Homo sapiens: one gene and its partner. The protein of the gene in region 2 purifies or fractionates together with the protein of the main gene of each other region. This does not show direct contact. Each region holds a gene or a part of one and is shown on either strand. Other genes may lie near its edges. The genes, in order: ZNRF2 and CGB1.

Region 1 (3,820 bases), on a different chromosome or scaffold from region 2:
GATCAGAAAAAATAACTAATGAGTACTAGGCTTAATACCTGAGTAACAAAATATCTGTAGAACAAACCCCCATGACACAAGTTTACCTATATAACAAACCTGCACATGTACCCCTCAACTTAAAAGTTAAAAAAATTGTTAAATATCACAATACACAAGAAGACTGTATTCTAGATATATTACACAAAAAGTAAACATACAGAATACTAAGACTGTGTGTAAATATATTATTATATGGTCAAATATATTTGTGATTTTCAAATTGAAAGCCAGAAGCTTTAAGATTTATGGATATTTAAAGGCACTCATATTAAACATAAACAATTATAGAATATAAGATAGTGGAGCAGGTATGAAAAACAAACCCATATACTTTTAGTCACAAATTTTGAATGAGAACACTTTCTATTTCTTAAATAACTAAACTTGAAGTAGATAATGCAAAGTAGCCAATTCAATTTCATAATGCAAAAAGGTTAGGATATAATCAACAAATACATTTATTATGCCAAGTAACTGCTTAAAACCACTTTCACATTTCATCAGCAAATGAATGGCAAAAAGTGCTCTATTGTCAACCCTGTAATAGGGTGGCTGAAGCACCACCATACTAGAAAAAGTGAAGGAAAGGGAAGAATTGAGAGACTGATTCTTAGATCAACTTGCAAAACACTACCAAAAGTAATATGCTCATTTCAATGTTAAATTCTACCCCTCCCAACATTTTTGTTACCTGAGGAGAAAGCTCAGATAAGTGCTGCTATATCTACTAAGTTTTTCATAGAACCTTTTTATTTAACCAATAATTCTTAGCTCAAAGAAATCAGTGACTATTACTATTAGTAGGCTGTAAGCTCCATTTCTGTTCATTCACTGCTATATCTCTAATTCCTAACACAGTACCTCGCACATAATTGATGCTCAAAATATATGTTGAATTTAGCCAATCTTTCAATTGGCTATAGTGTTTACTGGTACCCTTTCTACACATTTTATTTCAGGCCAAAATTTATATTTAAAAAAAATGAAATTTCTCTTAAGCTTTTGAAGTCTGTTTCTTTATAAAATTTTGAAAACAACTTTCATTTTTCCTTCATTTTATTCTATTCATTGGTTAGGACAGAACTACTTGATTTTTCCCCCCCAAGTCTATTCCAAAGTATGCCAAGGCTACATTTAAAATCTTTCCTAGGTTTTGGAATATCTAGAGATTTTGGTCAGGAAAGAATGGTACAGTCTAAAACACCAGACCTAAAAAAATACCAGTTCGCTCCAGAGCTCACAGACTAAATTTGTATATGGGAGGAAAGACAGAGACACATATGCACTGCATAGGTAGAGTTTTGGGTTTCTCTTAATGACTTTTTTCTCCCATTAGGCATCTATTTACTATTGAATAAACTTTTATTCTCCCTACTCCTCATATATGTTCCCTTCATTTACTCTATACTCTTAAACAAAAAGAAAAAAGTTGCAATTTCAACCATGCTTACTTACTTTTGAAAATGGCCATTATGAACATTACATTTTACTTAGGCTTAACCCAAAAGATTTTATTTCAATGCAGCAGTTCTCAAACTGTGGTCCAAAGAATCTTGTACAGTAGGAGAAGTGGAAGAGCCTTTGAAATCCTTTTAGATTAACAAAGTAAAAACTATTTTCATGGTAACACTAAGTATCTGTTTTTTTGTTTGTTTGTTTTTGTTTTTTTTTCTTTTTTTTTTTGAGACAGAGTCTCACTCTGTCTCCAAGGCTGGAGTGCAGTGGCACAATCTCGGCTCACTACAACTTTCGCCTCCTGGGTTCAAGCGATTCTCCTGCCTCAGCCTCCCGAGTAGCTAGGATTTCAGGTGTGCACCACCACACCCAGCTAATTTTTTTTTTTCTTTTTTTTTTTCTTTTAGTAGAGATGGGGTTTCACCATGTTGGCCAGGCTGGTCTCAAACTTGGGATCTCAGGTGATCTGCCTACCTCGGCCTCCCAAAGTGCTGGGATTACAGGTGTGAGCCACTGTGCCTGGCCATATCTGCCTTTTTCATTCCCATTCTCTCCAGTATAGCAGCAGAGTTTTCCAGAGGACACAAGACGTGCCATATCACAATAAACTGAATGAAGAAGCAGATGTGAGAATTCCTTGTCATGAAGCCTGATATTAAAGAGTTTGTAAAAATCCTGAAAATGCCACTCTTGTCACTAAATATTTTGTCTTAGAAAATTTACTTTTCATTTAAAAGTTGTCAACATAATTATATTTATGTTTAACAAAATAAATTAAAAATTATAAATTCTGTTTTAATTTATGACAAATATGGATAGATATAACCCAAGTAAAGAAAAACTCTTTGAAGTCCTCAGTAATTTTTTGAAGTGTAAAGAAGTCTTGAGATCACAGAATTTGAGAACCACTGCATTAATGCACTAGTAAAAATAGAGAAAACAATGTCCTTCCCTCCTTTTAAATTATACTTGAAACATGAAATTCATAAAATGTAAGTTAATTCTAACTTAAAATATTATTTTAAACCATTGGACTTACCATTATAGGTTATTCGTGGCTTTGTTAAACACATTACAAGATGCAAATCCATTTCATCTGAGGATACAAATTTTGAGCATACAGGGCACTTAAATCCTAAAAAACAAAAGAAACTCAAGTTACTTAACTATTCTGAATATCCAGCTATGGCTTTTAAAAAGCATGGAAAATCAAAAAGCGTTTGAAACTTCAATATTACACTTACTGCATTACACTGTTTATGTGCAACTCAAGTCAGGAAAATTTTGTGATTATAATATCTGACTTTTGTATCAGTTTATGAAGATGATCTCCTCATCAAACAAAACAAGTTAAAATGAGAGGGATGCAGTCCACTACAAACTCCTGTATCTCTCTCTGATGTACTGGTCCAGGTATTCTCGTTTTTAATTTTTTACATTAACCTGTACTCATGATTTCATGTTATTACAAGCTTTGTAATCTGACTACTCTTGTGGAAATTACCTTTACCAACTTGGTATAGTACACTGTGAGTCACAAGTTTTATAGCTAAACAGCACCTTAGACACTATTCTACCTCAATAACCTTAAAATTTTATCTGATGCAGAACGTGAAGCCTTTCAGAACAGCAAAAACAGGTCTAGAATCTAAGACTCCTGACTTCTACTTTAATGGTCTTTCTGCCACACCATGGCACTGAAGTCATAATGAAAACAGAAACTAGCATCAGATCGGGGTACAGGTTTTTGCAGTCAATTTTTGACACTTAAAAATTAGCTAGTTTCCTACATTATTCAATCTGCACTACTAAGTATTTGCCTGAAGTACTCCATTAAAAATAAACTAGCATAATAAAATAGGGACTATTTGATGTATTCAGCTCTGTTCTGCCCCCTCACTTACCAAGGTGAAGTGTCCCATCCCTGCCTTCTTGCTGCTAAGACAGTCCTCAGATATACCATGTTCCCCTGCTGTCCTACTGCTCCCTCCCCTGACACCACTAAGCTGTTTGGAAACCTGAACCCAGATAGCCAACTTATAGTTTGGCTAGGCACAAATCAGAAGTGGAACAAAAAGATGGCATAGGCCAATCAATTTTTTTTTTTTTTGGAAATATGATTAAGAAACAGTGAGAGACTATATTGGCCAGCAGTAAAGAGCTTAAGCAGAAAGGTCAAAAGTAAGTAAAAGAGAGACAGTGGTGTCCATGACGGCTCAGGTGTAAGCTGAACTTACGAGAGAACAGAAACTATAGGCAAGCACAAGAAAGAAGGCCACATGAAGCTAGAGTGTAGACAGGAACAGAAGCACTGTGAGAGACA
Region 2 (3,491 bases):
GCTGGAGTGCAGTGGCGTGATCTCGGCTCACTGCACCTATGCTTCCCGGGTTCAAGCGATTCTCCTGCCTCAGCTTCCTGAGTAGCTGGAACTACAGGCGCGCACCACCACACCCAGCTAATTTTTTTTTTTTTTTTTAGTAGAGACAGGGTTTCACCATGTTGGCCAGGCTGGTCTCGAAGTCCTGAACTCAGGTGATGCACCTGCCTCGGCCTCCCAAAGTGCTGGGATTGCAGGCATGAGCCACTGCGCCTGGACGAACGTTTTTAATTATATTATTATTATTATTATTATTATTATTATTACTAATTTTTGAGATGGAGCTTTGTTTTTGTTGCCCAGGCTGAAGTGCAATGGCGGGATCTTGGCTCACTGCAACCTCCGCCTCCTAGGATCAAGAGATTCTCCTGCCTAAGCCTCCCAAGTACCTGGGAGTATAGGCATGCACCACCACGCCCGACGATATTTTGTAATTTTAGTAGAGATGGGGTTTCTCCATGTTGGTCATGTTGGTCTGGAACCCCTCACCTCAGCTGATCCACCCACCGCAGCCTCCGACAATTACAGGCGTGAGCCACCACGCCCAGCCGTCCACCCTGTTTTCTACCAGAGTTCTGTACTGTGACTCTGTATAAAATAGTTTGGAAGCTGGACCCACCCTGTGTGTGTGATTGCCCTGAGCCCACAGAAAGACACCTCCAGAGTGCGGATTGAGAAGCCTTTATTGTGGGAGGATCGGGGTGTCCTAGGGCCCCGGGAGACGGGATGGACTTGGAAGGCTGGGGGGAGGGGCCTTTGAGGAAGAGGAGTCCTGGAAGCGGGGGTCATCACAGGTCAAGGGGTGGTCCTTGGGACCCCCGCAGTCAGTGGTGCTGCGGCGGCAGAGTGCACATTGACAGCTGAGAGCCACGGCGTAGGAGACCACGGGGTTCACGCCGCGCGGGCAGCCAGGGAGCCGGATGGACTCGAAGCGCACATCGCGGTAGTTGCACACCACCTGAGGCAGGGCCGGCAGGACCCCCTGCAGCACGCGGGTCTGGAAGCCGTGTGAGTGGGGGAATGAGCATGTGCCTGGGGCCAGCGCCTCAGCTGAGCTCCCCAGCTGCCCCCACAGGTCTCAGACTCAGGGGTCCAGGAAGCCCTCTGTTCCTGCCCTCCCACACCCCATTCCGCAGCCCCTGACCAGAGAGGCAGACCACCCTTCCTCCCCCGCTGCCTCTGTGGGTCTGGCCCTGAGGTGGCAGCACCTGCCCTGGCCCCGGGCAGCTCACCATGGTGGGGCAGTAGCCGGCACAGATGGTGGTGTTGACGGTGATGCACACGGGGCAGCCCTCCTTCTCCACAGCCAGGGTGGCATTGATGGGGCGGCACCGTGGCCGAAGCGGCTCCTTGGATGCCCATGTCCCGCCCATGCTCAGCAGCAGCAACAGCAGCAGCCTCTGGGGCAAGGACACTGCTTCACCCGGGTCTGAGACTGCAGCCCCCAGTCCTGGCCTTCCCATCCCGCATGGTACACCACCCACAAAGACCCAGAGACCCTTCCCGGCATCTTCTATTCAGGACCCACCACCCGGACACCTGCCTTTCAGAGCCCACCCCACAGCCCAGAGGACCTGAGATACCCCAACATTTCAGATCCGCACCCTCAGGAACTGACCCACCTGAAGCTTACTGGGGGTCACGCTCCTCCAGAAAGAGGCCTCCTTCCACAGCTCACACGGGTCTGCCCCTTCTCATGCCAGTGATGGCCTGGAAGGAGGTGGAAGGTGCCCAGGGGCCCTGCAGTCTTTCCTGGAACATCTCCATCTTTGGTGCCCGGAAATGTGGATCTACCCTACCTTTGACATGTCTCTCTCTTAGCGGGATATCTTCCGCAAGCACTGGGAATGTGGACATGGAAAGTAAATTGAGTCTCCGTGGGGGAGTGAGACAGGGAGTGAGGGGTGTTGGACGCGGCACGGGAACCTGGCCAGAGTCAGCGGACCCAATTGGCTGCTCTCTCTCAGATGCAGTTCCCCTTCCTCCCTCCAGGGGGCGCCACGGAACGCAGGGCCCTCACTGGCCCTGGGGACTGGGTGACGTCAGGGATGAGCCTCTTGTGATTGGCTCCATCACCCTGCGTAAGATCAAAGGGAAGAAAGGATGGGCCCGACAACCGGAGCCATTGTGGCTCCGGCCGATTGAGCCTGCCCTCGGGCTCTCAAGGCTAGGCGAGGGTGTGAGGGACTGGAGTTCGAGGTCAACCTGGGCCCCATTGGTAGGAAAAAAAAAAAAAATTTTTTTATCGTTCCCTATATAACAACAAAACATAAAGGGAGGACGCCTTGATAGGAAGAAATGACATCTTCCTAAGTGTTTTTAAATTACTTCAATGTATCTTTTTTTTTTTTTTTGGGATACCGAGCCTTGCTCGGTCCTCGGGGGACCTCCCTGCCTGTCAGCCATGGCGGTCGTCACCTGTGGTAAACAGAATGGCGGGAGCAAGTGGGATGTCCCACTACTCGGGCTGAGGCAGGAGAATCACAGGAACCTAGGAGGTGGAACCTCCTCGCCCAGGAGGGGCGCGGCTTCGGACTTAGTTTCTGCCCAATGAGAGAGGGCCTCCCCGTGACTGTGCTGCCAGGTTAGCCACTTGACCCTGGTGCCGCCAACGAGGGATTCAGCCCGAGCCCCACCTCTCCCTTAGGGACCTCTGCCCACTCTACCCTCAAGCCAGGATGCCCGGAGCGGTCCCCGGAAATGCGTGTGCTTCGGGTGATTTAACTGATTATTGAATAGGCCCGCAGGAGGTGTGTCCTGCCCCCGAGGCCGCAGCCTCGGAGGACATTATCTGGACTTAGTCCCTTCCCCGCGATGCCATCAAGCTGGACAATTTTAAGGTCTGTTTCTTTCCCAATGTAGGGTATAGGATGGCACAGGGAAGAGGGCTAGAAACCTGACTTGAGCTCCCCGCCCAGGGCTGAACTCTCCAGCATCCTGATCACTTCTCATTGAACCTTGCTTATACTCCCCGTGTGATCGGTAGCTCTTTATCTCAAAACAGAATATTCTAAGCCAACCCCTGCCTGCTCTCACCAAGTAAGATTTCTCATTTGAACCCCAGCTCCCAGATACTTAAAGGCCTTCTGTAGACCATGTCCTCAAGGTCCCCTGGCCATCTGCTTGCATGTTCCAGTTTCTCTCCTCCCCCATGCACATCGTGAAATGTGCCCTCCCACTCCCCAGGATGAGCAAGGTGGTGTCCTCTGTGACTGAGCAGTCAGCAACTTAACACCAAAGGTCACCAATGATCAAATCCATGAGAGTTGATCCGAGGAGTTATGTATTAGGGCTACGAAAGAGTAAACACTCAGTAAATAATGGCTATTATTATTATCATCATCATCATGATTACCCTCAAGTTCCCCCGGGAGAGTTCCTATTCAACCTTCAAAACCCCACATTGTTGCACCCATCCTACAGAGATTGAGCTCAAATTCAGACAGTTGAGA

The links.
Region 1: the proteins of CGB1 (region 2) and ZNRF2 purify together in Homo sapiens (affinity purification with mass spectrometry; one large-scale study listed by BioGRID and IntAct). This does not show direct contact.

What each region holds. Positions count from the first base shown.
Region 1 is NC_000007.14:30,322,454-30,326,273, reverse strand, and holds part of ZNRF2 (E3 ubiquitin-protein ligase ZNRF2), read right to left. Parts: intron 2,633-3,820; coding exon 2,537-2,632; intron 1-2,536. UniProt on the Homo sapiens protein: E3 ubiquitin-protein ligase that plays a role in the establishment and maintenance of neuronal transmission and plasticity. Ubiquitinates the Na(+)/K(+) ATPase alpha-1 subunit/ATP1A1 and thereby influences its endocytosis and/or degradation.
Region 2 is NC_000019.10:49,034,865-49,038,355, forward strand, and holds CGB1 (choriogonadotropin subunit beta variant 1 isoform 1 precursor), read right to left. Parts: upstream 2,032-3,491; 5' UTR 1,848-2,031; coding exon 1,839-1,847; exon of another isoform or gene 1,662-1,838; intron 1,440-1,661; coding exon 1,272-1,439; intron 1,037-1,271; coding exon 746-1,036; 3' UTR 705-745; downstream 1-704.